3 separate regions of the Homo sapiens genome follow, and regions 2 and 3 are each linked to region 1. The links come from fine-mapping of genetic effects on gene expression. A gene starts in region 1. Each other region holds a variant in brackets. All regions are shown on one strand. Distances are from middle to middle.

Region 1 (10,278 bases):
AGTTTGAGTCCAGGAGTTTGAGACCAGCCTGGAAAATATGGCAAGACCTGGTCTCTACAAAAAAAAATAAAATAATTATCTGGCTGTCCCAGCTGCTCAGGGGGCTGAGGTGGGAGAGATCTCTTGAGCCTAGGAGGTTGAGGCTACAGTAAGCCATGATCACGCCACTGCAATCCAGCCTGGGTGACAAAGCAAGACCCTGTTTCCAAAAAAAAGAAAAAAGAAAAAAGTGCTCAACCTCAAGAGTAACCAAGGAGAGCAAGTTAAAACCACAAGAAATATCAAGACACACACATGAAAATAGTTAAAATATTAAAACCAATAAAAGCAACTATTTGCCAGGATATGAAGCAACTGGAACTCTCATATACTCCTGGTAGGAAAGTAAACTGTTCGACACTATCTAGTAAAGCAATTGTACTCTAACATATATAACCTAAAGAAACTTGTTCAAATACATCAGAAAATATCTAAGGATGTACTTGGCAGTCAGAAACTATAAGCAACTCAAGTATCCATCAACCACAGGATGAATACATCTATTGTGACACAGCCATACCATGAAACACTGTTGGCAACGAAAATAAGTGAGGCCGCCACGTGGATGCATCTCACAAACAAGTTGAGCAAAAGAAGCAAAACACAAAATGCAAAAGTATGATTCTATATGTATGAAATTAAAAAACTTAAAACTATATTGTTTAGGGATATATACATAGGTGATATAATTACAAAGAAAAGCAAAAAAATGATTATCACAAGATGATTTCTTCTAGGGGAGGAAATTATGATTTGGAAGCAGGTACTGAGTATTGGCAATGTTCCAGTTCTTGACATGTTGGTGATTACGTGTGTATTTCCTTTAGAGTTATTTGCTAAACTATATATTGTGTTTTTTACCATGCATATTTGCTGTATTTCATATTCAAAAAGTTTAAAACAAATAAATGAAATAAATATACTGATTATTGTTTCTTAGAAAAATTGAGAAAACTAAAATCCTTTATTTTTAAATTAAAACCTTGCCTGCAAAATCCCTAACAGGGTACATGCCAAGTAAATTTTCCAGAATGCCTAAATCTGTGTGGCTCAGGGTGACCTGACGACCCCTCTTTACATATGGAAAAGTAAGGTGAGTAGGCACCCAAAGTCCTGGGGTAGCTATCTTGTTGAAGGCTGTCATTCCTGAGAATCATCGGTAGGCAGAACCCTGGAGAGTATGTGGAACCAATTTGCCAAAGGGATTTGGGTTAAGGTTAAGAAGAGAAGGGACTGAGCCCACAAACTCTGATAAGAAGTTTGAAAACAGAGACATCTCTTGGGTGGTCTAGATGACCATGACCAAGGTTGCTAGCAGGAAGGGCCCCAAATGCCCTAAAAGAGAACTCTCCAGGACACCAGGGGAACCCAGCCTGGTGAAAAGCTCAACAAAAGCCCAGAGTGAGGTGCTTTGGGGAGAATGGCTGAGCACGCAAGCATAAATGAAACAAGCTCTAACCTTGGAAAACCAAGCATGGAATCATGCTGGCAGAGATTTGGTCCAATAAGGGCATTGAGCAGCAGTGATCACACATCCGTGGACTGTGTAGGACAGCTCTTCAACAGTTATGCCATATAGCTGTGTCAGGAATGACAATGTGTGTGGACTGCTCAGACAATGCAGTTCTCTCTCCTCTGGAGAGTGACAGTAAGACTGACCCCATTGGAATGTATAAGCCCCCAGAGAGGCTGGAGAAGGAGACACTGGAATTCTCACTAATAAGGACATTAGAGAGGACTTGGGAGTCTACTTAGAAAAAAATAAGGAAAGACAAGAGTGAATGTAAACCCAACTTGTGAAATGAGACACACATGTTAAACATCTAAACTGAAATAGACAAAATCTTAATCAAATGTCTCTTTGTGTACATTCCTTTATGTATACAGTATCAAACATTTTAGACGAGTGGGAAACTAATAATCACTAAACTAAAAGAGGGTAATGAGAGAAATTAGCAGACATTTCAAACAAAACCCATGACAGGTAACTCAAGAATAGGTTCATTCATTAAGGCAAACTGAAAGAACAAAACACTTGTTCCATCTATTTCCTGACTGAAGCAGGTACAAGGAATTTGTTTACTTCACATCTTCCTGTGAAAAGCAAGTGATGTCTTCTTGGTTGCCCAGGACACCATCCCTCCCATCTCTGAGAGCTCTTGCTGACTCCCTATCTACATCATCAGAGCCCCCACTAATCTGCCCTCAGTTTTATCCCTGCCAAAGAATCTGAGGTCCCTAAGGCCAGAGTCTACGTATGTTTTTATCTATTTCTACTCACTCCCACTCCTCTTGGCACTGCCACCAATGCACGTTTATTGAAGGAAAAAAGGAGGGAGGGAAGGAAGGGATAGTGTAACTGCACTGCAACTGAAAGAAACCAGAGAACGGAAACTCATGGTGACCTGGTGACTGCTTGAGCATTTATTGCTTAACAGCTACTTGTGCGATCATAAAAATACAATTCCCCTGATAACCACGGCAACCAAAATGATGGCACTATGGTGAAGGCGGCTCTTCTCAGAAATCTAAAAACAATAATAGGCTTGAAACCAGAAAGACAAAGAAATCCAAGTGCTCCAGGGCAGAAGGAAATCCTTTCTTAAAAGCCCTGATAAAGCAGCTTTTTCTCCAGTCTCTCAAATCTCACCAGGCTCCAGCAAGGGCTCTGGAACTGGTGTGAGGGATCAGGAAACAATTCAGGCCTCTCTGTGTGCTCCTATCCCTGGAGGCCAGCTGTTATGAGGTAAGCTCACTGGGAGCTGCAGCTTATTGTTATTTTAAAATGTACTGAGAACGGGCAGGGAGATGGATATATATATAAAACATTATATAACCTCAAACTAACATAGCTAGCTCTGGAAAAAGCCCCTTGAGGACAGGGACCATGTGTGTCTTGTTCACAGCTCTATGTCCAGATCCTAGTAGGTGTACAAGACAGAGTAGGGGTTCCATATAGCTGCTGAATAAATGCGGAATGAGATTAGAACTGAGGGAAAGCACAGTGCCTGGTAAAAGGTCCATCCTCTCCACTACCCACTGCCAGCACTCTGTTGGGTCCTGAGCAAAATCAAAGTCCTGTCGTCCTTCTGGGTCCAGTCTCTCCATTTGCAAAGGAGACAGCTGGATTAGATGGTTTCCCAGGCATCCTCCAGCTCTGACAGTCAATCACCGTACTGTGTTTTTTTTTTCGGTGGCTACACATGCCTGGCACTTTTCTCTCCCCTCAGAGGGAATCTGATACCAATCTGCTCAAGTAAATTGATGTTCCCATCCAGCCTGACTCATATGGTAGGAACAACAGGTTCATATGCCAATTGTAAAAGAGAAGGCAAAGGGGGCCCAGAATGAGAAAAAGAAAAGGTCTTACAAACCAAAACGGCAGTTTTCAGGACTAAAAATATAGAAACAAATGTGATTATTCTGCTGAAAAAGCCCTTCACGTGGGGCAATCTCTAGCTTACTAATAATGCTTATATTAACAGCATTATCTACTGAGGCTTTTGTGCCAGACACTGTGTGCTAAACCCTTTACAATTAATCCTCCCAGCAACCCATGAGCTTATTACCTCCTTTTCACAGATGAGGAATCAATCTGGCTGAAGGTCACAAAGCCAGTAAGTGGCAGAACTGTGATCTGAACCAGAGCTAACTGACTCCAGAGTTCTGGCTCCTCAAATGACTTTCCCCTCTGTTCTTCACTGTAGTCCTAAGAGCGAGGCAGGACAGGGGTTATCACTTTTTGTTTAAAGATGAAAAAACCGTCTGAGAGGCTTGAGATTTGCATAAAATACACAGTGGGTGCCCAGCCCCATATTTGCCCCTTGAGATTTGCATAAAATACACAGTGGGTGCCCAGCCCCATATTTGCCCCTGCGTTCCTAGGTGAAGGCTCTTCCCATCCCAAGAGTCAGCTTCTTCTTCTTCGACTTTACTTACACACTCGAAAAATCTCAGGGCTGGAGGCACCGCGGAGATACATGCTCCGCGTCCGGTAGTTTTACGGGAGGGTAAACCAAGGCATAGCTCTCCGTCGGCGCGCCTGAGCCTCCGGATGCCGGGGGACCGCGGAGCCGCGGGCGGCCTGAGGGTACGCCTCATGGTCCTGCCAGACCCCTGATGCCCGAAGCCCGACCAGACGCTCAGCCTCGGCCAGGACTGAGCGGCGCCTCCTGGGTCGGTCGCCTGGGGAAGCGCCCCGGGTCCCCTCCCCCGGCCGCCCAAGTTCGCCCGCAGCCTCTGCGCACCGGCCGCTTACCTCACAGGGCGCTCGCCCACCGCGGAGTCCGGGCCGCGGCCGCCGGTGCCCTGGAAGCCACCCGCCGCCCCCGCTGGAGCCGCAGCAGCCGGTAGGATTGCGGCGTGCGGCCAGCCCCGCCCGGGGGCGGACAGCTGCCTGGGGATCGTGCGGAGCCGCCGCCGTCATGTGACGCGCAAGGCGGCGAAGGATGCCGGGAGCAGCTGGCTGGCCGGGGCTGGGCTTCCCGACCACCGCGCATAAAAGCTGTATCTGCAGGAGGGGCACCGGGAGGCGGGAGGAAGGCAGACGAGGAGGGGGCGCGTGGGGCTTCGGGTACTGCAAAGGCGAGCTTGCGGAAGGACGATTCAGGCTCGTGTTGCGTGGCCCCAGAAGGGGCAGAAATAGAACCAGTGGGTGGAAACTGCAGGGAGGCATGCTAAGGCCAATACAGTGTAAATAAGATTCCTGCGAGCACCAGTTATCTAACAGTATAAGGAGCAGTTTCCTGGGGTGCTAGGCACCCTGTAGATGAGCATGTAGGGTCTGGGTTCATTCACTGAACAAACTGACCATTGGCTACCTGCCAGACAATGTACTAGGAGTACATATTAAATTAGTTGTATGTATGGCGCTTAGCATAATGCCTGCCACAAAGTAAATGCTGTATGTTTGTTGCTGCTGGTGCCGTTACTATTATGGGCACAAAAGTGAACAAAGCAGATATGGTTCCTCTTCTCCTGAAGTTAATTCTGTAGTGGAGAAGGTAGACGGTAATCAAGTGTCATTTAAACCAATATGTGTTTAAAATTGTAGAAAATGCACGGAAGGAGCTGTAATTTAAAAATAGGGGCCAGGTGTTCATGCCTGTAATCCCAGCGCTTTTGCAGGCCGAGGCTGGAGGAAAGATCACTTGAGCTCAGGAGTTCGAGGTTAACAGTGAGCCATGATTGTGCCACTGCACTCCAGCCTGGGTGACAGGGCGAGACTCTTGTTTCAAAAATAAAACTAAATAAATTAGGGACCAAGGAAGGGTAGTCAAGGAAGACCTCTCAGAGTAAGATAAAGAGTTAGCCAAATGGAAGAGGGGCAGGGTAAGCCCTGTGAAAACTCTTGGACCAGGTGGGTTGGGTTGGAGGAGAAAAGATCGCTCTTTGTGGAAATGGAAAACGTCTAGCTTGTCTGAAGCTTTTTAACGGGAAGAACAATATAAGTGAGGTCAGAAAGGTAGGTAGGGGCCAGATCACGCAGCACTTAATAGGCCATGATAAGGATTTTAAAATTGTACGTAACAGGAAGCCATCGAAGGGGTGGAGGATTTGATACCTTTTAAAGCAGTATGTCAGCTACTATGTGAAGACAGGAGTTAAGGGTGGAAGCAGAGATTGGTAGCTTAACCTATTAACTGGGCCCGTGGAGGTGCTATTTATTGAAATGGGAACTATTGTAAGGGGAATATATTTGGAAGCGGGGGGAGATCAAGAACTCCCATTTGAACTTGTTAAATTTGACACTGCCAGTTAGAATGACTATTAACAAAAAGACAAAAAAATAACAAATGCTGGTGAGGACATGGAGAAAAGGGAACTCTCATACACTGAATTATACAGCCAGTATAGAAAAATGCATGGAGGTTTCTCAAAAAAGTAAAACTAGAACTGCCATATGATCCAGCAGTCCCACTGCTGGATATTTATCCAGGAATGGAAATCAGTATGTCAAAGGTATGCCTGGATCCCCATGTTTATTGCAGCACTATTCGCAATAGCCAAGATATGGAAGCAACCTAAGTCTTCATCAACAGATGAATGGATAAAAAGAATGTGGCATATATACACAACAGAATACTATTCAGCCTGTCATTTGCAGCAACACAGATGGAACTGGAGGTCATTATGTAAAGTGAAATAAGCCACGCATAGAAAGACAAATATCACATGTTCTCACTCATACGTGGGAGCTAAAAAGTTGATCTCATGCAGTTGGCAAGTAGAATGACAGTTACCAGAGGCTGGGAGGGGAAGGGGATAGAGAGAGGTTGGTTAATGGGTACAAACATGGATAGAAGGAATAAATTTTAGTGTTCAATAGCACAGTAGGGTGACTGTAGTTAACAATAATTTATTGTATATTTCAAAATAGCTAGATTTAAATGCTCCCAATACAAATAAATGATAAATTTTTGAGATGGATATTCTAAATACCCTGATTTGATCATTACGTATTGTATGCATGAGTCAAATATCACATGTACCCCATAAATATGTACAATTATCTATCAATTAAAAATAATTAATTTTGAGATGCCTGTGTGTCATCCAAGTGGAGTGATTAAAAAAGCAATTCACGGCTGGGCGTGGTGGCTCACGCCTGTAATCCCAGCACTCTGGGAGGTCGAACGGACGAATCACGAGGTCAGGAGTTTGAGACCAGACTGACCAACATGGTGAAACGCCGTCTCTATTAAAAACACAAAAATTGGCTGGGTGTGGTGGCGCGTGCCTGTAATTCCAGCTATCAGGAGGCTGAGGCAGGAGAATCGCTTGAACCTGGGAGGTGGTGGTTGCAGTGAGCAGAGATCGTGCGCCACTGCACTCCAGCCTGAGTGGCAGAGTGAGACTGTGTCTCAAAAAAAAAAAAAAAAAAGCAGTTCACTTGTAATCCCAGCTACTCAGGAGGCTGAGGCAGGAGGATCGCTTGAACCCAGGAGTTTGAGACCAACCTGGGCAACGAAGCAAGACCCTGTCTCTAAAAAAGAAAAGGAGTTGGATACAGACCTCCGGAATTTACGAGAGAATATCAGCTATAGAAACATAATTTACCAAGAATACTATGAAAAAGAAATTATTACACGAAATTGTGGCCTGAAATAATTGACCCCGTGGTCCTACTGACCTTTTTCAGTCCCTGGTTCTATAGAATATATTCCATAAAAATGTATTCCATCTATTATTACCATATGGTGAATGTGGTATGATTCTGGGTGAGGTCTAAGTTACCATGTAGCTGGTCTCTTTTATAAATAAGAAAACCAAACACTAAAACCTAAAGCCAACAATTTATTTTAAGACACAAAGTTGTACAGTAGCTAGGTATAGTAGAAAGACCACAGGGGTAGTCTCACACTGCAATGAGCCTGATGATTTACCTTGCTGACTGACAAAGCTATGCCATATTTAATCCTTTGAAAAGTATCTTACTCCATGAAACTGGCAGTCCAGATATGACTGTCAATAAACAATCAAAAGCTTGAGTTTCTGGATTTGTGCCAGCTAACATTATCATTTTGGTATTTGTATAAAACAGCTGACTTTCAAAGTGCTACAGCAGTGTCCTACAAGAGCAAGCTGTCTTCCCTATTAGTGGGGCAAGCATCACGTGCCACATGGGAATTTTTGTTTGTTTTGAGATGGGGTTTTGCTCTTGTCGCCCAGACTGGAGTGCAATGGCATGATCTTGGCTCACCGCAACCCCCACCTCCCAGGTTCAAGCGATTGTCCTGCTTCAGCCTCCCCCGTAGCTGGTATTAACAGGTACCAGCCACTAGGCCCAGCTAATTTTTGTATTTTAGTAGAGACGGGGTTTCACCATGTTGGCCAGGCTGGTCTCAAACTCCCGACCTCAGGTGATTCGCCCGCCTCAGCCTCCCAAAGCTCTGGGATTACAGGCATGAGCCACCACACCTGGCCAGGGGTTTTTTTTTTTTTTTTTTTTTTTTGAAACAGAGTCTCGCTCTGTTGCCCAGGCTGGAGTGCAGTGGCTCAGTCTCAGCTCACTGCAACCTCCACCTCCTGGGTTCAAGCGATTCTTCTGTCTCAGCCTCCCAAGTAGCTGGGACTACAGGCTTTCGCATTTTCAGTAGAGACAGGGTTTCACCATATTGATTAGTCTGGTCTCAAACTCCTGACCTCAGGTAATCCACCTGCCTCGGCCTCCCAAAGTGGTGGGATTACAGGTGTAAGCCAATGCGCCCAGCCAAAAATATAACTACTTAAATATAAGAACATCATTCACAAACTACAGTTGAGCCCTCTCTTCTTTCTGCCCTCATCTCACCTCTGCATGCCTCTATCCTACCATTAGACTCGAGAGGAAACTTACTCATCTTTATACACTGGCACCTGGCTGGTGTTTACTGGCAAATGTATAAGTGAACACACAAAATCTCCTCAGCCATGGGAGCTTTATTTACTTTGCTTTCCAGAAAAAGTAGGCTCACACAGAGTGGTGTCCCAGGTCAACATAGTGGACATGCCATGCTTTTTGGCTGCCCAGCATCTGAGGTCCCTTCCTACATTTGGGAATTCCTTGTTTATGAGTTTGCTGGGAAGCAGAACATGCCTTTCACTATAGAAGTGGAAATTCCAGGTATTTTCTCTGCTTCTCCTTGTGATTCTATCATGCTACAAATTACTCTTGATTTTGAATTAAGTACCAGAGACACAATAAAGTCTCTGGAATAATTTTCTCTGGGACCATGGCAAGTGCGGCAAGTTCTTAGAGCAACACTGGCTGCCATGATCCAGGGTTCTGTGCATGTGGCTTTGGCAAAGTAAGTGGTGGCACCTAATGTTCAGCAGAAATGGCGTCCTCACTGCCCCAGCTCTGTGGAGTATGACCAAGGAACAAAGGGTGATGTTCCAGTTGCCTACTCTCCAAGCCTAATTCTCTAGGCCTCCTGGTGATACTGAACTCCCTGTTATCCTTTTAATAAAATACTTTTCTTTTTCTGTCAAAATTGGATTTTGGTGTTTGCAACTAAAAAATCTGACTCACATAGTCACATGATAAATAGCAGAGCTGAAACTATAATCTAGGACATTGAAATCCTAATTCTAGTATTCTTTCCATGTAGACAGATCTCTACTTTCCAACAACCCACAATTTTTACATTACATATCGCTGTCCCTAAATCATTTTGTTCACCGAATTTATACTTGAATATGTAAGCTGATTAGTGAACATTTCAAGTGACTGTATTTCAAATGCAGTATTATCTTTGTACATCTGTTTATGTAATAGTTTCTTTCTTTTTTGCATTTTTGGCCTCTATATACTTAAGTGGAAATGAAAATACCCCGCACTTGAACAAACGTGGGAGTTAGGGGCCCCGACACCTGCACAGTCACAAATCTGCATGTAACTTTGACTCCCCAAAAACTTAACTACTAATAGCCTACTGTTGCACAGAAACCTTACCGATAACATAAAAAATAGATTAATATGTATTTTGTATCATTATCTATTATATACTGTATTCTTACAACACAGTAAGCTAGAGAAAATGTTAAGAAAATCACAGAGAGAAAAAGCATTGACAGTACTATACCGTATTTATTTAGATTCTAAGTTTAGGTTGTCTGTTTACAAGATTAGTCGTGTCTGAAATCAGAGCAACTACAGCTGCAGACCTCAATCTATAGTACATATCAAGAATTCAACTTTTTCCTTTAATGTCATGACTTTTCTCTGCTTCCTGGGAGCACTTCCAGCATCACTAGTGGCACTCTGTATAGATCCCATGGAGTTATTCAAAGTTTTGTGGTATGGTATTAAACACAAAAAATACATGAGACAGAGAGGGATCGCTTTTACTTTGATTTGCAATTTACTGGAGCGAGGAACTGCTCATGCAGAGATGAGTGTCACATGGCATTTTAAGTGGATACCTATAACACTTGAGCTCCCTGCAGTGGCAACAAGAGGTGGCTATGGACTTACTGTATTACACTATTACAAAAGATAATTTTATGCAGTTATGATTTAATACTGCATCTTTCTCTTGACCTCAAATTGTGCTATGTATGGTCTGTGTACATAAGTTTTGATAAATCTTAATTTTTTATAATAGATGTGTGCATTTTATGAGTAAGACTACAATCTACATATATTTTATGCATTCATGACATCCTTTATCTTAAATTTTTTCAATATTTCTAGACTACATATGTGTGCTTTTTTCAAATTGTTGCAAATCTCCGATTTTTCAACGCATTTTTTGA
Region 2 (10,278 bases), 56 kb before region 1:
TTCCTGGAAGAGGTGATAGGTGAGTTGTAGGCATTTATCAGATGCACAACAGGGAGAGCTGTTGCAGGAAGGAGAAACAATATGCAAAGGCCTGGCAGAGAGGGGAGGCAGTGTCAGAAGTCAGGGCCACTGGCAACCCAACTGAGACGAAAGTGTGTCCCTCTCTCCCTTCCTCTGCTCCCACAGTGCTCAGAGGCAAAGCCCCAGCATTTTTACTCTTTGCCTAAAGTCACTAACCCACGAAGCTGCAGAACTGTAAAGAGGCTTTAGGCGACCCAGCAATCCCACTACTGGATGTCTACCTAAAGGAAAAAAAGTCATGTGCACACGCATATTGATAGCAGGACAATTTACAATTGCAAAAATATGCAACCAACCTAACTGCCCATCAGCCAAAGAGTGGATAAAGAAATGTGGTATAGGCTGGGTGCAGTGGCTCACACCTGTAATCCCAGCACTTTGGGAGGCTGAGGCAGGTGGATCGATCACCTGAGGTCAGGAGTTTGAGACCAGCCTGACCAACATGGTATCTCTACTAAAAATACAAAATTAGCTGGGCATGGCGGCACATGCCTGTAATCCCAGCTACTTGGGAGGCTGAGGCAGGAGAATGGCTTGAATCTGGGAGGCGGAGGTTGCAGTGAGCTGAGATCATGTCATTGCACTCCAGCCTGGGCAAAAGAGTGAAACTCCATCTCAAAAAAAAAAAAAACAAAAAAAAGGTGGTATATATATACCACAGAATACTACTCAGCCATAAAACAGAATGAAATAACAGCCTTTGCAGCAATTTGGATGGACTTGGAGGCCATTATTCTAAGAGAAGTAACTCAGAAACGGAAAACCAAATATCCTATGTCCTTACTTGCTCACTACTTATAAGTGGGAGCTATGCTAATGACGAAGAAAAGGCATAAGAATGATATAATGGACTTTGGTGACTCAGGGGGAAGGGTGGGAGCAGGGTGAGGGATAAAAGACTATATATTGGGTACAGTGTACACTGCTTGAGTGACAGGGGCACCAAAATCTCAGAATTCACCACTAAAGAACTTATCCATATAACCAAAAACCACCTGTACCCCAAAAACTGTTGAACTAAAAATAAAAATAGAGCCCTTGGGATCGTAATTCCATAAGGGCAGGAACAAGATCTGTTTGGCTCCACAGTGAAACGGAGCTCTGCATAGAAAGGTGCTCAGAGCTCAGTCCGGTGGGGAGACAAATAGGTGAAGGAAGAGATACCAAGCCCTGTGGGGAGTGCTCTGTGAGGACCAAGCCCTGTGGGGAGTGCTCTGTGAGGTATGTGTGGACAAAAGCACTAGACAAGAGATAACTCAAACAGCCTGGGGTGGGAGGTGGGAGCTCAGGGACTCTTCCTGAACAAAGATACAGCTAAGCTGCAGGACTGCAGTGCAAGGCGGGCAGGAGGTATGCAGGGTATATAGGGAAGAGTGTATGCAAAGGCCCCAAGGCAGGATCTCTCTCTTCATGAAGCATCTACTGTACAGCAGGCACTGTGCATGATTATTCTGTTAAGGAAAGAGAGCTGAAATAGTCCTGACCTTGACCCGGAGACCATGAAGATAACTCGGGAGGCTCCCAACACCATGACAAGGAGGGGACACCCCATCCCTGGCTTCCTGCTGGTGAGCCCTTGTTCATCCTTCAGGACTCAGCTTCTCCGTCCCCCCCTGTGGGAAGTCCCACCCACATTTCCCAGGCTGAGTCCTGGCAGGAGGGATACTGTCCCTTGTAGTGCTGAGTGATTACGGTTCTGTTCTCAGCAGAGGCCACGAGGACTATCCCAGGGTTGTGCCCTGTGTGGGCACCACACGTCACACACATGCAGACATACTCACTTTAGTGTCGGACCTGGGCAGCAGCTGCAGCCCGCTGCCCCGGTTGCCAATGATATCGTTTTCAATGACGATGGTGCTGTCGCCCTTGGTGATAATGCCGTGGCCTCTGTTGTCATAGATACCATTGCCCCGGAGCTCCACTTTGCACTGGGCCTCAACCTTGACCCCACTTTGCCGGTTGCAGGAGATGCTGTTGTTGGCCACTCGGGTGGGTTGGCTGCTCTGGGCCACAGTAATGCCTCTGTCCCCATTCGCGTGGATCACATTGGTGATGACATGCAGTGCCTCGCTGCTCTGGACATAGAGTCCTGAGGCTATGGGTGGAAGGGTTGGAAAGCACAGGGGGTCCCAGGGTCAGCCCTGACACCACCAGTCAGGAAAAGCCTTCCCTGAATTGTGCACTCCGGGAGAACGGAGTGGAGAAGAAGAGGTACCAACACTCAGAAACAACCCTTGAGTTTGCGTCTTCCAAGCTGATGAAACAGCAGGAGGAAATCCAGGTGCGTCAACAAAACTCTGGTTCTTCTGCATGAAGTCCTTATTCAGTGTAGCCAGGGAAACACCATGTGAGAAGGCTCCTCTGGCCTGAGCTCCCACCGTGTGCTTGAATGCCTCCTGCACCACCGCCATCCTACTGCCGCTTACACCTCCCTGACGGGGTGCTCACTGCCGCCTCAAGGCTGCTCACTCCCCCTCTGGACAGGCAGATCTACTCATTAGAGGGTTTTGCTTTGCTCTCCTTCCTACACTAACCTGGAATCTGCCTCCCTACTGTTTGGGGAAATTTTCTTTTTTTTTTTTTTGAGACGGAGTCTCGCTCTGTCGCCCAGGTTGGAGTGCGGTGGCGCCATCTCGGCTCACTACAAGCTCCGCCTCCCGGGTTCACACCATTCTTCTGCCTCAGCCTCCTGAGTGGCTGGGACTACAGGCACCCGCCACCACGCCCGGCTAATTTTTTGTATTTTTAGTAGAGACATGGTTTCACCGTGTTAGCCAGGATGGTCTCGATCTCCTGACCTCGTGATCCACCTGCCTCGGCCTCCCAAAGTGCTGGGATTACAGGCGTGAGCCACCATGCCTGGCCGGAAATTTTCTTCTTAATGTAAGTTCTGTAATTTTGGAGTACAAAAACTTACTAAGCGAGTAATATGTGTCAAAAATGTGTTTGAAATTTGGGAAAGGAAAACTGACGCTTGCGGTTGTGTGTACTTAGAGACACTAGGTACATGAGGAGAAAAACCCCAAGTCAGCAGGATTAGAGCTCCATGGCTTGTCAGGAAAAGAAAGCAGGGCAGCCAGACCCGGGGGCGAGGAGAGGAGGGCTCTGCGGTAGGTCCCTCTGCCCACCAACAGCAACAAGGGTTGGGGCAGTGCTGGGGGAGGTTGTGTGCAGGACAATGACTGGGGCCCTGCAGCAGTGTCTGGAGCCATGAGCCTGCAAGCTCAAATCTCTTGGTGGCACCAGCCTGTTGCTTCTCCTGGCTTGGTTGAGAACAACAAAAATAAGTATTTGTGAACGTAGGTGGCTTTGCCTGTCGTACCGGACAGACAGCATGGCCACATGGAGGAACCTCTGACCTGGGAGGAGACAGAACTCATTTTCTGAATAAGTGGGTTGGGGCTGCTGGTTATCCATCTCCCTGTCCTCTACCACTACCAGAAGCAAGTGCTTACCAGGCCCAGGAATCTCTTTTAATTTTATTTTGTTTTAGAGACAGGGTCTTGCTCTATTGCCCAGGCAGTAGTGCAGTGGCACCATCATAGCTCACTGCAACCTCGAACTCTGAGTCCTGAGCTCAAGCATCCTCCTACTTCAGCCTCCCTAGTAGTTGGAACTACAGGCATGTACCACCATGCCCAGCTAATCTGAAAAAAATTTTTTTTTTCTCAGTAGAGATTGAGGTCTCTCTATGTTGCCTAGTCTGGTCTTGAACTCCTAAACTCAAGCGATCCTCCTGCCTTGGCCTCTCAAAGTGTTAGGGTTACAGGTGTGAGCCACTGCGCCTGGCCCAGGAATCTGTTCTGAATAAGCCTTCCTCCATTTCCCGACCCACCCATCCATCCTACCCTCCCACCCCCACCCCACAGTGATTTTGATAATCAGGAGGCTTTGGGAGCCCTGGAGTTAGGTGAACTACACAGTAATTATTTTTTTTTAATTCAAGAAATATCAAACATCTTCTACCATCTTTTTTTTTTTTTTTTTTTTCCTTTTAAGACAGGGTCTTGCTCCTGTCACTCCTGAGCTCTGAGCACCTAGAATACCGTGGTGCAATCACACCTCACTGCAGCCTTGAACTCCTGGGCTCAAGCGATCCCCCCGCCTCCTGAGTAGCTGGGACCACAGGCACATGCCACCAGATCCAACTAATTTTTCTTTCTCTACTCCTTCTTCTTCTTTTTTTTTTTTTTTTTTTTTTGTAGAAACCAAGTCTTGTTATGTTGCCCAGGCGGGTCTTGAACACCTGGCCTCAAGCAATCCCCCAGTCTTGGCCTCCCAAAGTCCTGGGATTACAGGCTTGATCCCTGGCACCTGGCCTCCATTTTTCATCAGGTTTAGGATAACATGGATTTAAAACACTTTTATTTTCTGCCTCTCTAAGAAGGAAAACTCACTGCCAATTAAACCATGATATGCATCTCGTGGGAGATGTTGAATTTTGAGAAATGTATCCTAGAGTTGATTAAAAGCATGTGTGCCAGAGGTGGGATTTGGTACTGCAGGGACAGGGGCACTGAGCTGGGTGGGCTTCAGTTCTTTGTCTCAAGTTCATGGCCTATCAGTGTTGATGAAACAGCCACAGAAATAAATACAGTCGCGAGGCCTCATAACAAGTGCCAGTGGGGATGGGGAGGGCCCAGTTCAAAGGAGGAAGGAATGAAGGGGGATATTCACAACAGGTTTTGAAGTTCAAGTTAGTTTGGGACGTGTGGATGGGAGAAAGGCATGAGTGAGGTCAGCAGGTTAGGAGGCAGGAAAGAATGGATTCAAGTTTAATGAATAAATACAGGAGGATTGGGGATCAGGCTGGAAGAAGTGGCTGATGAGGCCTGAGGGCAAGTTGGGATCAGTCTGCAGAAGGCCCTGCCTGGCGGCCGCACCGTCTCAAAAATAAGAAGCACCTCTGCTCGGCCGCCCCACCGTCTGGGAAGTGAGGAGCACCTCTCCCTGGCCCCCACGCTGTCTGGGAAGTGAGGAGCGCCTCTCCCTGGCCCCCACACTGTCTGGGAAGTGAGGAGCGCCTCTGCCTGGCCGCTGTGCAACCCTCCAAGTGTGAAGTGGCAACCTTGTGTGTGATTTTTCTGCCCTACCCAGGTTTGCATCTTTGACATTAAAGTTTACTTTTAAATTTAAATTAAATTAAAAGTTTTAAATTGGAGAAAAAAAAAGACAGTGGGGAGCCATGGAAGGTTCTTGAGCAGGGGCTGAGGGGGTATACTCACCTCCATTGTGATTAATACTGTTAGACTCAACAAGAGCTATGGTGATGGGCCGGCGCAGTGGGTCGTCCTCCTTCTCCAGCTCTGTCTCCCAGAGGATGGCGTCCCCATCCTCGCTGAAGTTCTCTTGAGCCCTGTGGCCTCGAGGTAACTCGCTGGAGCCATCCTTCTGGCTAAATACTGCCACTCCATACAGGCCATTGTAGCTGACGTGGTTGCTGGTGACATGGGGGAGGCTGGACGACATCATCCACACACCACAGCCCTTGTTAGCTGGGACAGTGAGAGGAGCTGGTCACCGACACTGAACTCAGGTGAAGCGGCACCTGAGTCTCCCTGAGAGGGGAAACAAAAGCCACTGGCCTGGGAGAGAGTCCCTGCCTTGCTAATGACCTCGGACAAGCCACCTGATGGCTCTAGCTGCAGACTTCACCTTCACACAAGAGAGGTCATCAGGATCAGGTGAACCTCACAAGCTCGGCTCGTTCCACACAGTGTGAAAGTGCTCTGAGGACTGTCAGGCCACATGTCCACATCAGAAGCACATGAGCCCACAGTGACAGTGCCAAGGGGGCACCAATCCCTCCCTGCATAGGAGGCAGCCTCAGTTGGAATCCCAGCCCTACCACTTCCCAGCTGTGAGACCCTGAGCAGGTTACCAGACCTCTCTCTGTCCCTCAGTTTTCTCATCTTTTAAATGGGGTTAATAACCGTGCCTCCTTCAGAAGGCAGTCATGAGGATTAAATGTGATCATGCATAGAAAGGGCTGAGTAGAGAGGTGGGCCTGAGTCATCTTTATTATTATCACTGTATTATTAGAGATAGAGTCCAGACAGATGAAGGCTCTGCCCAAAGTCACTGCGTGAGTGAGAAGAGTTTTCTTCCTGTGATTATCTTGTTTTCCCATTATATTTTCCGTTCTCTGGGATCAAAAGAAAGGATAAGAGGAGTTAGATGCACATGAGCCAGGGCTGAAATGGTCCTGTCCTTAAGACATGACACAACTCCTGTCTTTTGCTATTTTAAAAGGGGATAAAGCCTTCTGCTTTGCTAACCCCACGGGGTCAATCTGGACTACAATGTGATTTGTAAGAGGCTCTTTGTTCTGGGAGGGCCTGGGTGACTGTGGCCTGAGAGTGCCTGTTCAGATGAGGTCTTTGAGGCACAGGGAAAGGCAGTGACCTTCTCAGGACCCACAAGCTGGAGATGGAACCTGGGCTTCCTGCCTCCCCGGCTGGGTTGGGAACA[A/G]GCTCCTCACCGTAGATGGTATTTCCTTCTATGAGGCCTTTGCCTTCGTCTCCCACAACCACACCATCTGAATAGCCAAAGCAGATGAGGTTACTCCTGAGAACGGGGATCCCTCCACGGCGGATGTCCACACCTCCCCACTGATTCTCACGGATGACATTTTCTATGGAGAGAAGCAGAAAAGAAGGTCAGTACCCAAGGGCCAGCTCCAGTGCTGGCAAATAGGACTTGGACAGTTTTGATCAAGGCTACTCCAGACCAGAAGGCCCTGGCCTTACCCTGCCAGCAATTAGCACTGTAAATCTTGTCTGCTGTCTGATGTTTCAGGGACTTATCTGCTGACTCCTTTCCCCAAGGGCAAGGCTTGTGTCTATCTTGTGCACTCCTATCTCCCCGGCACCTACTATACACCCAATGGCCTTGAGGACTGATGATTAAAAATGAACTAGTTTTGGCCAGGCATGGTGGCTCATGCCTGTAATCCCAGTACTTTAGGAGGCCAAGGCGGGTAGATCACTTGAGCCCAGGAGTTCCAGACCATCCTGGGCAAAATGGGGAAATCCTGTCTCTAAAAAAAAATACAAAAAAAATTAGCCAGGTGTGGTGGTGCGTGCCTGTAGTCCCAGCTTCTTGGGAGGCTGGGTGGGAGGATCACTTGAACCCTGGAGGTCAGGGCTGCAGTGGGCTATAATCGAGCCACTGCACTCTGGCCTGGATGACAGACTGAGACCCTGCCTCAAAAAAAAGAATAAACTAGCTTTGGTGAGTGACACTGGTGTCCAAAAAACCAACCAACCAAACAAAAAGGAAACAAAACAAAGAATAGGCCGGGTGCGGTGGCTCACGCCTGTAACCCCAGCACTTTGGGAGGCTGAGACGGGCGGATCACCTGAGGTCGGGAGTTCGAGACCAGCCTGACCAACATGGAGAAACCCCGTCTCTACTAAAAATACAAAATTGGGCGTGGTGGCACATGCCTGTAATCCCAGCTACTCGGGAGGCTGAGGCAGAAGAATCACTTGAACCTGGGAGGCGGAGGTTGCAGTGAGCCGAGATCGCGCCATTGCACTCCAGCCTGGGCAACAAGAGTGAGTGAAATTCCGTCTCAAAAAAAATAAATAAATAAACTGGCTTTAGAGTCCTCAGAGGCAGAATGTGGCCATTTACCCACAAGCCTGTGAGAAGGCGCTAGCCTCACCTGCAATGGCTCAGGAGTCTCTGTGTGACTGGCCTCTTCCTGTCTCCATGTCCCCACTGCAGGCCCCTTGTGCACCACACTCCAGTCCCACAAGCGATGTCCACTCGGCCATGCCAAGTCTGTTCTCACAGGCGGCCCTACACGGAAGGTTCTTTCCCAGCTCCTCCAGCCACTCCCACTCAGGGTCTGGTTTCCTTGTCACCTTCTCAGAGGGCTGCCCTGACCACACAATCCCAAATGCCTACCCAGTCCCTCTTTTGCCTTAATTATCCATAGAGCACTTGTCACCCTCAGATGGGATGTTTTTTGCTCATATACGTAGGCTTTTATTTATTTATTCGCTTCCTCTCCTAAAATGTCAGTGGCTGACAGCCTCGTTCACTGCTGCACTTGTAGCTCCTGGAACACGGCCTGTATACCACACGTGCTCAATCCATGTCTGATAAGTTCAGTCAGGGGGATTCCCTGGACCAGTATTTGCGGAATCCCTTTCATATCCCAGGCCTGGCTCTGCTCTGTGCTGAGGCTACATTGATGTACCAGATGGACTTGACCCTCACCTTGTGGAATTTACCACTTTATAACAGAGGAGACGGACACCACAAACCACTAAGAAATTAAGTCAAAGGCCCTAGAGAGGAGGCATCCTGGGTATAGTGAGTGTATCTGTGTACAATGGGGAAGTCAGGGAAGGCTTCCCTGAGGAAGTGACAGTTAAGCTAAGACCCAAAGGATAAGCAGGGGTTAGCCGGGCGGAGGTTTCCAGAGCAGGCAGAGGTCCGCACAAAGACCAAGAGGAGGGATTTGGACAGGTGGTTGGGCATCAGTGCTTCTGAAACTGTTCTGTGAGCCACCTTGTGAGGGCCTGTCGGCTCTGGGCCTGGAAGGAGCAGACACCCACTCTGTGTTAGGCCCTCCTGTAAGAAGCACAGCCACCATGCAGCTGGCGTCCCTGAGCTCCAGCCCACCAGTCAGAGAAAGAGGCCATAGTCTGTGGGGGTAAAGGAGCAGTGTGAGGTCCTGAAGCTGGGGGGTGACGCCAGGGGACCTTGGCCTGGCTGCCAGGTGCCAGGCAGTTCCCATCCGTACCTGTGATGAGGCCTTTGCCGTTCTCATTCACTGCTATGCCGGCAGCACGGCCCTTGAAGATGTGGTTCCCGCTAAAGTGGAAGGAAAACAAAACAAAGAGGTGAGCCCAGGGCATCAATGTCATGCTTCCAGGAGACTGCCTTCTTTCATGGAAACCCTGTCTCTACAAAAAATACAAAAAAATTAGCCGGGTGTGGTGGTGTGCACCTGTAGTCCCAGCTTCTTGGGAGGCTGGGGTGGAGGATCACTTGAGCCTCCCTATGGCTCAAGTCCACAGGGGCATAAAAGCATTTCCTAAAGTCCCTTTATAAGCCAGGCATATAGAAATGTTTAGTTGTCACTGGGACAGCTTGACCAAAAACTAAACCCCCAACTATGCTATACACGCACAATGATATCCAGTTCACTGTAGCCTCACTTGACTGTCATCTACATATATACCCATGCATATATATATACATTTTTTTTTTTGAGGTCTTGCTCTGTTGCCCATGCTGGAGTGCAGTGGCACAATCTCAGCTCACTGCAACCTCCACCTCCTGGGTTCAAGCGATGTTCGTGCCTCAGCCTGGATTACACGTGTGCGCCACCACATCCAGCTAATTTTTTGTACTTTTTGTAGAGATGGGGTTTTGCTACGTTGCCCAGGCTGGTCTCGAACTCCTGGCCTCAAGTGACCCATCCGCCTCAGCCTCCTAAAGTGCTGGGATTACAGGCATGAGCCACCGCGCCTGGCCTTATATGTATTTTATCCAACCCTCAAATGTTTGAACCAGAAAATGTTTACAATTTTTTTGTTTAAGACATGGGTTCTCGCTATGTTGCTCAGGCTAGCCTCAACCTCTTGCACTCAAGTGATCCTCCCACCTCAGCCTCCCAAGTAGCTGGGACTACCAGCATGAGTAACTGAGCCCTGGCATATTTTTACTACAAATCTCACCTCCAGAAAGGATCCGTGGCCACCTGGAGAAGTGTGTGTATGTGTGTACATGGGGCAAGCAGAATAAAGATACAGGAGGGATGAGAAAACACTTAGAAGAAGGGGACAGATCAGTGTACCAAGAGCCCAGGATGGGATATTAACTGCAGATGAGCACAATTTGAGTCCTGTGCTTCTCTGCATCCAAGGAAAAAAGAGAAACATATATAACATATAAAAAGACAAAAAATATAACTTTCTGTGGCAAAAATAGATCCTATGGTTTGTCTCATCCAGGCCATTACAGGGATCTTAAACTTCATTCCGTATCCTGCTCCAGACTCTTATCTCTCATTGCAAAGAAACAAAGGAAAAAAGCACAACCTATTCTCTCAAGATGACTATGTTTTAAAAACCCAACACTGATCTAATTATGATATTCCTCACCCAAAACTCTTTCATGGTTCCCCAGCATCCCCAAGGTAAAGCCCAGACTTTTCAGCTTGGTGTATTAGTTTCC
Region 3 (10,278 bases), 44 kb before region 1:
GTGTTCAATGAACAGCACACACACATACAAATACACACTCTTCTGTTCAGGCAATAATGCAGAAGAAGGGAAAGAGCTCTATGACCACTAATTGTTTTTAGTAAGCTGTCTGTAACAGTGAAAAATAGGATTATATTCCGTAATTTTTGAACCAGCAATTAGGTCTGGTTCAAAAATTATGGCATATCGAAATACTGGAATATGGTGAAACTTTCCAAAGTGATGAATGTAAAGGCCATGCATGCAACAACATGGAGACAAAGTACCTATGGAATAATGCTGGGGGAAAGCGCTCTGAATATACTTGCTGCCCATTAATGCCAGCTATTCTCCTAAAGCACAGACATAACTGTGTGAGTCTTCTGCTCAGAGCCTTTAATGAGTCCCCGCTGTGTAGACAGAATAGGCTCCCCCGCCTCAGCTTGGTCTACATAAGGCCTTCCTCATCTGGCCCAAGCCTTTCTTTCCATCATTCCTTTCCACTCTGCTGTGTGGCACAGATGGTCTGCCGCAAGGACGTCAAGGGTCACACTGCAGTGACCACAGGGCCCAAGATATTCTGGGACCATCCCAATTTAAAATATTCTATAGCACTGTCACACCATGTCAGATTTTTTCTCAAGCCACCGTCAACGGTTTGCTAACCCCTGAATCTGCTGTGCCCTGCTGCCTTTGCTCATGCTGTTCCATTACTAGGAACATCCACCGACCCCTCCCTACCCCTATCTCCATGAGTCCAAGTCTTACCCATATTCCAAAGTCTGACTCTGATGCTACCTCCTAAATGAGGCCTTCCCACATCCTCCTAGTCAGAATGAGTCTCTCCTTCTGGTACCACTCTGACAGCATTTATCACAGTCTGCCCCATACTAGAGCTGGGATGGCAGACAGGGTCCCAGGACTGCCACTGCTGCCTCCCACCTATCACTTATATCAGTCCCTGACCACAGCATGCTTTTGTGCTGAGGCCAGGTGCAGCACCAGGATGTTGACACAGCACCCCCAGGCACCACTAGCAAGTAACTGAAACTGTTAGGTGAGCTGAAATCTCTGTTCCATCCCTGCCTGGGGGTACTTCTGTGCCCATTTCTCCAGGCTAGAGTAAGCTCCCAGGGAGCAGAGCCTGCCCATGTTGGAAGTGCTCAGTAGTGACTGCCGAATAGAACGCCTACACGGAGTTCACTGGAAGGGCACATAAACACAAAAGCCGCTGTGTTACTGGGGTGGGATGATGAGTGAAGTCTCTTCTCTGCTTGCATCTGTACAGTTGTTTCCGTAAAGAGTGTTTTCAAATGGAGGAGAGACAGGGAGGAGGTTAACAAAGATGAAGGAGGGAAACAGCAGCACACACCTCACAACGGGGTTTCCGTGGTACAGGATGTAAATGCCAGCCTCCTTATTGGAAAAGATTTGATTGTTCCGGATGATGCCTTTCCCATTGCCAAGGACGACAATGCCAGAGCGAAGGCCATGGTGGATCTGGTTACACTGCAAGTGAAAATGAGACACCACAGAAGCCAGATCAGACACGTCAGCGAAGCAGAGTGCCCAGGTGCCGCCCACACCTCCGCGGCAGGATGAACACAGTGGAGAAAATGACGTCACTGTAAGAGCCCTAGCCCGTGACAAAGGGAATGGGTCACACTGCCGCCCTGCCCTTCCTGCACCAGTACACACATGAAAACCTGTAAGGGAGACTATGAAGACTGGAGTCTTCGCTGCCCAGCCTCTTAGGAGGGCTCTTGGTCTTCACCTGCAAGGCAGGCTACTGAAAGTTTCAGAGCCTCTAATGAGTCCCCTAAACACATAATCATTTGGCCAGGCCATAACTTCTAGGGTCCAGGGAGGCCATCTCTTGAGGAAAGGCAGCACCCCAGTGCAACCAAATGTTGGCCAACTGCAGTCCTAAAGGGGCCACATCCAGAGAGGGGTCACAGTTGTTTGACTTCTAGTCCTTTCTCATTTAGGGAGGGCCAGCGGAAGATGCAGACACTGGGGGGCCAAGCTGTCCCATGGGGCATAAGGTCTTAGAAGGTGTATGAGCTACAGAATGCCAAGAGATATCTTTTTTTTTTTTTTTTGGTAGAGACAGGGTTTTGCTTCATTGCCCAGGCTGGTCTTGAACTCCTGGCCTCCAGTGATCCTCCCATCTTGGCCTCCCAAAGTGCTGGGATTACAGGTGTGAGCCACCACACCCGGCAAGATATTCATTTCTAATATCTCTTTGTGCGAATGGGAAAACAGGCCCACGATTATATAGTACATTTGTGGAAAAGCCAGATCTGAAATCTAGTTTTTCTCTTTCCCATTCCAGTTAGTTGCTTTTGCACAGTGACTTAATATTTTTAGATTAGAATAATAATAAAATTATCTCACTCTAAGTTAATTTATAGCTGAAGTCCAATTCTATACTTTGTAAATTGGGAAGTTAGCTGTATCTCTTCCAAAATGATTTCGCAGAAATAAAGTTCTAGTTGGCTTTAAAGTGTTTCGTGTGCAAACTCTCCTTATTCTTACTCTTTCCAGATTTTTCCTGAAGGATTTGGCAGGCTCATCAGAGCAACCACTGCCTAAGAGAAGTCCCGCACAGGGCTGAAGAGCTCCAAAAGGAGTATGCAGCAGCATTTCCATCCCTACACCCTTTCACAACGCCAGGACTAAAATATACCACTCCCTTCCCCCTCCACCTGCTATCCCTCTGTCCTCAGAAGGGCAAACCCCTCATCTCTCTAGCCAGAGGGGCAATAATTTCCTAAGCCAAAGCCATGCATCAACCACCAGCTGCATGGTAGAAACACAGTGAGGGGAAGGGGTTGGCAGGAGACACTGGCTAGCTGTGTGTATTTTCTTTTTCTTTTTTTGAGACAGGGTCTCGCTCTGTTGCCCAGGCTGGAGTGCAGTGGCACAATCATGGCTCATGACCATGCCATAGTTATGGCAGCCATGACCTCCCAGACTCAAGTGATCCTCCCACCTCCCACCTCCGCCTCCCAAGTATCTGGGACGACAGGTGTGAGCTACCATGCCCAGCTAATTTTTATAATTTTTTGTAGAGACAGGGTCTTGCTATGTTGCCCAGGCTGGTCTTAAACTCCTGGACTCAAGTGATCTTCCTGCCTTGGCCTCCCAAAGTGCTGAGATTACAGGCATAAGCCACTGTGCCCAGCCTTCTCTCTGTATCTTTATGGGCAGTTAAGATATGATGGGTTCAGCATTACCCGTGAGTCAGACTGCCTGGATTCAAATCCCAGCTCTGTCACTAGGTGTAGGACTTTGGGCAGGATCCTCTGCCTCTTCAGGCTCTATATCTTTACTATAAAATAGGGATGATAATAATTCTTCACAGGGTTCTGTAAGCATTAAATGACAAGTAAATATCTATGAAGTGCTTAAAAAAGCATCTGGCGTATAATAAGCATTATGTATTAATGGTGGCTATTATTTTTTCAAGCCCATAAAAAGTCTGTTATATTTCCCAACTCCTAGGAAATCTGTCTCTCAGTATACATGTAACAAAATTCCTCCCATACCCCATAAATCTGTGTAAAAACAAAATAAAAAACCCCCAAACCCCAAACCTGCTTCTCAGGAAGAGCCAGAGCAGAAAAGGAGCTGGTCTCTCGTGTCACTGGCCACACAGTCTAGGATTTTAAGTGGTTTTCACACGGGTAGAAAATCAAACTCAATATGCCCTCACAATAACCACGAAACAATCTTCAGAACTAAATACCCGAAATGTCCTCTTACACAAGTGAATAAACTAACTTGGTGGGTTCGCTGCTGTTGTTTTTGTTTGTTGTTGGATCCAAGTGTCTTTAGGGCAGACATCACTCTCTTTAACCTTATCAAACTCAAAGCCAACCACAGCATATGAGGGCTGAGGGCCCTGTGAGGTTTCCCTGTCTTTCTGGTCCTCCTCCTTATTAACGGGGAGATGACCAGAAAATGACTTGTCCAAAGTCACTGCTAATACACAGACAGAGACACAGAGTCACAAGGACACGCAGAGGACAGAGCAGGAGCCACCTGCAAACAGGAAGCACGTAAATACAAGAGGGCAACGTGTATTTAAATATCCTCACAAATGGTTTCTGAAAACCAAGAGTCACCCTGAATAGGGAACGAACACAAAGTACCAGTATGAGTGGGTTGGACTTTTTCCGGATGTCTACACCAGCCTCTGCATTGTGGTAAATGTTGTTGCCGGCAATCAAGCCACCGCCCTCCAAGCGAAGAAAGATGCCTGACGCTCGGCAGCGGTAAATGTCGTTCCTGAGCATGATGATCTAAGCAGAAAAGAGAAAGCCATTTATTTTCCTGTTACAAATATTTTTTTAGAAACCACTGGAGGAACACCTGAGTCTTTTCCGCACCACCTGATCCATGCAGTTTACCCCGTAGGCAAGAGAAACGCCTCAATGCTGGCACAGCCACGCTCCCACTGTGTGCTCCCAGGACACAGCCATCTCCAGGCCCTACCTGGCTTTGCCCTGCAGGCTCCTTAGCGGTCTCACATTGGTTCTTTTTTTTTTTTTTTTTTTTTTTTGAGACAGGGTCTTGCTCTGTTGCCCAGGCTGGAGTGCAGTGGCATGATCTCGGCTTACTGCAAGCTCCGCCTCCCAGGCTCACGTGATCCTCCCACCTCAGCCTCCCAAATAGCTGGGGCTACAGGCTAATTTTTGAATTTTTGTTTATTTTTATTTTTACTATGGATGTGGGCTGGAGTAATTTTGTTGTTAACTTTTCTATTTTTTGTAGAGATGGAATCTCACTATGTTGCCCAGGCTGGTCTGGAACTCTTGGGCTCAAGCAATCCTCCCACCTTGGCCTCCCAAACT[G/T]CTGGCATTACAGGCATGAACCACTACACCTGGCCCACACTGGTCCTTTAACTAAAACCTGGACCAAAGCTTGGCCCTGTGCTCTATATTCAGAACCTGCAAGCAGCATAGCTGGATGATGGGATAGAAAGGACGCTTAGGGGAAGATGGGACTGAGTGGTCTTCAAACTTTACATGCACTAAGTTTGCATGAAGATTTCCCCAGGGGTCGAGGGTGCAGCTACTTTTAATGAAATAAAGTTCCAGGTCCACCACTTCCAATGCACCTTCACTAAAATCCACCTGTCTGAGACGGCACGGACAGTAAGGTACCACACAGGTTCTCCTCTCCCACCTTCCCTTCCACTTTATAAAACAAAGGCCTGTTCTTGCACATCCTAAATCTTTCATGGTGTATCACCCTGGGGTGGAAAACTACTGAGACTCCAAATGAAGGGATGATTAGAGATATTGGTATAACAAAGCCTCCTTCAAACAAGTTCCCATAACCAGCAACCTGCTAATAAAGGGATATATTTCCAATTACATTTTCTTTTTATGTTTAATAAGTACAGTTGTCTCCCCCATGTCTGTGGGTTCTGCATCCATGGATTCAACCAACTGTGGATTGAATATACATTATTAAAAATAATAAATAATAAAATTGAAAAACAGGCCAGGTGTGGTGGCTCACGTCTGTAATCTCAGCACTTTGGGAGGCCGAGGTGGGCGGATCACTTGAGGTCAGGAGTTTGAGACCAGCCTGGCCAACACGGTGAAGCCTCGTTTCTACTAAAAATACAAAAACTAGCCAGGCATGGTGGCAGATGCCTGTAGTCCCAGCTACTCAGGAGGCTAAGGCAGGAGAATCTCTTGAATCAGGGAGGCAGAGGTTGCAGTGAGCCGAGATTGTGCCACTGTATTCCAGCCTGGGCGACAGAGTGAGACCTTATCTCAAAAATAAAATAAAATTGAATTAAAAAAAACAACAACAGTATAGGCTGGACGTGTTGGCTCATGCCTGTAATCCCAGCACTTTGGGAGGCTGAGGCGGGCGGATCACCTGAGGTCAGGAGTTTGAGACCAGCCTGGCCAACATGGTGAAACCCCATCTCTACTAAAAATACAACAAATTAGCTGGGCGTGGTGGCTCATGCCTGTAGTTTCAGCTACTTGGGAGGCTGGGGCAGGAGAATCGCTTGAACCCAGGAGGCAGAGGTTGCAGTGAGCTGAGATCACATCTTTGCACTCCAGCCTGGGCTAAACAGTGGAGACTCCGTCTCAAAAAAAAAAAAACAAAAAAAACACAACCAACAAACAAAAAAACCCAGTAGAAGAGCTATTTACATAGCATTTGCATCGTATTGGGTATTATAAGTAATCTAGAGATGACTGAAGTGTGGGAGGATGTGTGCAGGTTAGGTGCAAATACTATAACATTTTATATAAGGGATTTGAGCATCTGTGGATTTTAGTATCCTGGAACCAAGCCCCCACGGATACCAAAGCATGATAATATATAAAAAATCTGGAATGTTTATCTATGCTGTCTTAAACAATTATAGATTAATAATAAAATATATTATTATAAATTGTGTACTACTAATAATATATTGCATTAGGACAAAATTCTGTGAAGACTAAAGTAGAACAAGAGTATAAATGGTAAGGTTTCAGCTTCTGCTTAGGATGGAGAAAGTAGAAAGAATATACACAAACATGGACTTTCTGGTGGAACCCATCAGAGCTGAGGCTGCTGGACAACCGGCTAGCCTGAATGCTACAAAAAGACAGGTGCCTTTCGGAGCGTGCAGTGAGCCCAGATCGTGCCACTGCAGTCCGGCCTGGGTGAAAGAGTGAGACTCCGTCTCAAAAAAAGAAAGACAGGCGCCTCCAAGGAGACGAGGCCTGAGCACTTCCCTGCTGAATGCAGGGCTGCATGTGTCATACAAGCCAGTAAGAACTCAGCTAACATTTTCAATGCACTGTTAAAGACCAGCTGTGAATTAGTGTGAGTGCAGAAACTCTGGGAGTAGCTGCACCTGTTCACTTCTCTGTGGCCTTCACTAGGTGTTCATGGAGAAAACTGGGGGCAGATGAGAGACTGGAGACAGCACCCTCCTGACGCAGGCTGGGGACAAAAGTGAGAGAGGCATTAAGCCCCTCTCCTGTGTTCTTTCCCCCTAACTCTCTTACAAAACAAACCGTATGCACAGAGAAACAGCGGGAAAACACTCTTATCTCTGGGGGTGTTGGGAGGAAAGTGACTTAGGCCCAGATCATCAGAGGTCCCCTAGTGCTGGGGGTAGAGCCAGGGTCACTGAAAAAGTCCTGCTCTCAAGACCACAGACACAGCACCTACCTAGACTAAGGATGACCCAGGACAAGAGAGAAACCCTGCCATCACGTAGGGTGACAAATAATGGCAGTCTACTGCTGAGGGAGGGCGAGAGCAGCGGAGATCGCCTCTGAGCAGCAGGCACAAAGGAAGATCTGAAGCGGAGAAAACTAGCACGAGGTAATGCTGGAGAGAGCTGAAGCCTACGGGACGCTGAGGATAATCCTATCATCACCATAATTCAAACGGGCTCAGCTCCTAACTAGATCGACCTCCTAAGAGCCAGGCAAAAGAAGAGGTGTGCCCATTTCCAAACTAAATACTACAGAGCTCAGTCCCCACTGTCCTACATGAGATATCTGACTTCCAACTAAAATTTATGACACATAAAGAAGAAAATCACAGTCGGTGACACTTCTTTTTTTTTATTTTTTTTTTGGAGACGGAGTCTTGCTCTGTCACCCAGGCTGGAATGCAGTGGCGCAATCTTGGCTTTCACTTGCAACCTCCACCTCCCGGGTTCAAGCAATTCTCCTGCCTCAGCCTCCCGAGTAGCTGGGACTACAAGTGCCCGCTGCCATGCCTGGCTATTTTTTTTTTATTTTATTTTAGTAGAGACGGGGTTTCACCGTGTTGCCCAGGCTGGTCTCGAACTCCTGAGCTCAGGCAATCTGCCCGCCTCAGCCTCCCAAAGTGCTAGGATTACAGGCTTGAGCCACAGCACCCGGCTGACACTTTTCTTCTTGGAGCCTCAAGCAACCAGGCTCCTCCTGCCAGCCTTTACCCTCCTGGGATGTTCTAGAGGACAGAGCCAGGTGACAGCCTTCTGTGGGGGAGCAAGGATCAAGGCCTTGCTTGAAAGGGTGAAAGGGTGTGTCTCCCCTTACTTCTGGGCCTTCACACACACCTCCTTTGCCTCGCGTCTTCACCCTGCCGACTTAAGGGGCAGAGCCAGACTTTAACTAGAAAGCCATATTCTCAATAACTATGCAAGGAAGAATGCCCTCCTTGAGGGCTTGAGCCAGATCCTTTCATCGTGGTAGTCACGACAGCAAAGCTATTACCTTTCCCTTTTTATTTGGCCATTTTCTTTTATGTATGTGTACAGGAGTCTTGCATTATGCTTTCAAAGTAACATCACCTGAAATCCTCTTTGGAAGTGGGCTGGGTAAAACACAATTAAATTTAAATTAATTAAAATGTGATTGCTATTAACCATTTTAGAAGCCTGCAACACTCATGAGTGACCTTTGTACAATGTTCTTTAGTTTACTGAATACTTCCGGCATGGGACCTTCCAATAGCCAGTGAGAGAAGAAAAATAGGGATGCTTATTTTCATTTTACGAAAGTGAAGGTCATGTTCATAGTGAGTTAGTGGAGAGGTGAGACTCGAATCTAGGTGCTATGCCATGCTTTCTTCTGCATGGGCTGTCTTTCCCTTCAGAAGGCCTTCCTGTCATCAACCATTTACAGGATTTGCAGATTGTCCTGTGGTGCCCTAAGTCCCAGCACATAGAAGGTGTTGATTGTCGCAGTGGCTAGAAGGACTGTTCTTAGCATAAGGCCCAAATGTCTCAAGGGGGATTCCAGGTCTGGGTAAGGTAGCTTTTGCTCACCCCCAGCTTCATCCTTCAACCTAGCCCCACCGCATGGTTGAATTCAACCTCACACCCAGGCTCTGGCGTAGGATGTTTCTGCTGTTGGGACACCCTCACTCTCCACCCCTTCTTATCACGTGTCCAATTTTCCCTGGACCTTCTTCTCATTGTACCCAGCACAGACGTTTCCTCAACAACCCTACTCCAGTTTGGAGTGAAGGTAGTAATCATATCTCCCTGAATTTTCTCTTATCCAGGCTTTGTTTCTCCTACTCCGACATGGTGAGATATGTGAGCAGCAGCATGACATAGTGAAAAGAGGCAGGAGACCCGAGTTTCTAGTCTCAATTCTGCCTAACTTGCTATGTGACCCTGAGTAAGCCACGTTCTCTCTCTGGGCCTCTCTTTCTGGGAAATGAGAAAAAGCGTTTCTGTCCTTTCCAAATCAGATGATGGGCATGACGTCAAGCGTGCGTGAATAAGTTTAAAGAAAATTATTTTTAAAATGCAAAATAGCCCCATCAAACCCTTCCTACATATAGCCACAGGAGCCCCCTGACCAATCTAAAGTCATGACAGCACCTTGCTATTATGTATACACCGCACTGCGTAAGTCAGGTTCCGGAAGATGTTTCCTTCCATCTTGGCTCTGCCGTGGGAGCAGACGAAGACGCCTCCCTTCCCGTCCCGGAAGAGGCACTTGCGGATGAGGCAGCCCTGCACGGAGTTGGCCAGTGCCATGGCCTCCTTATCCTTCTGCAGCTCCTGCTGCAGTGAGTTCAGCACTAGGCAGCTGGGCAGCTGAATGGATGCTCCTGGTAGAGGTGGGCCCAGAAATGAGCCCCCCAATACAGGGCGTGGGCCCTGCACTTGGTAGGATAGTCTGTACATCAGCTGGTCCTCATCTTCATCCTCACCGCTGGGACTCAGGCCTCCATCGCTGCTGTCCGGGGTCTGGGCCACCCTTTCACCATCACTACCCACCTCTGCCTCCTGTGAGCCAGCCTTGGAGCCTGGCTTTGGGGAGCTAGAGGCTGGGCTGGTAGGGCTCTGGCTGCCCTCGATAACAATGTCACAGGTCTTTGGGCTCCAGGCCTGGTCCCGGCTCTCTAGGTCCAGGGACATTAAAAAGTCAGAGTCCTCTGTGGGGAGAAAAGTGGGTGAGGACTTGATAAGCCCTAGTAGATACTTGTAGGCCCAGTTCTTATCTGCAGATGGGTGACCCTCAACAGTCACAGAGTTGTTTTCACTGCCCACAAATTCACAGTTTTCCAGGACACACAGGGGCACGTTGTGCAGGAAGATATGGGTGTTTTTGAAGGTACAGAACTTCACTTGGCAAGTACCCGGGCCATGGACCTGGATGTGCCCGTTCTCAAAGTTGCAGTTGTCAAACTGGACGTGACCTGATGTTGTCTGGGGAATGAAAAGAAGAAAACGGCTGTAAGAGGGATGAGATTGGTTTTGGACTCTAGCTGCCCTTTAAGGAGGGTAGAACATGGAAAGGCCATTTGTTCTGCTGA

What was found. PIP is the estimated chance that this variant, and not a neighbour inherited with it, causes the effect.
Region 2: its variant is fine-mapped to the expression of FBXO10 in whole blood (TOPMed, PIP above 0.99). The same link has a PIP of 0.9 or more in T cells.
Region 3: its variant is fine-mapped to the expression of FBXO10 in whole blood (TOPMed, PIP above 0.99).

The regions. Positions count from the first base shown.
Region 1 is chr9:37,571,914-37,582,191 of GRCh38, forward strand. It overlaps FBXO10 (F-box protein 10), which reads right to left and starts at 4,467. Exons shown (of 11, transcript NM_012166.3): 1 at 4,298-4,467. RefSeq lists a silencer at 4,121-4,500.
Region 2 is chr9:37,516,263-37,526,540 of GRCh38, forward strand. It overlaps FBXO10 (F-box protein 10), which reads right to left. Exons shown (of 11, transcript NM_012166.3): 6 at 8,840-8,910; 7 at 6,563-6,715; 8 at 5,307-5,576; 9 at 1,863-2,176. Among named protein-coding and RNA genes, the nearest start is that of POLR1E, 35 kb to the left of the region's middle. The variant A/G (reference allele first, on the strand shown) is at 6,553.
Region 3 is chr9:37,527,773-37,538,050 of GRCh38, forward strand. FBXO10 (F-box protein 10) reads right to left here. Exons shown (of 11, transcript NM_012166.3): 3 at 9,338-10,171; 4 at 4,137-4,286; 5 at 1,352-1,488. Among named protein-coding and RNA genes, the nearest start is that of FBXO10, 43 kb to the right of the region's middle. RefSeq lists enhancers at 1,199-1,568, 1,669-1,718 and a silencer at 4,093-4,152. The variant G/T (reference allele first, on the strand shown) is at 4,839.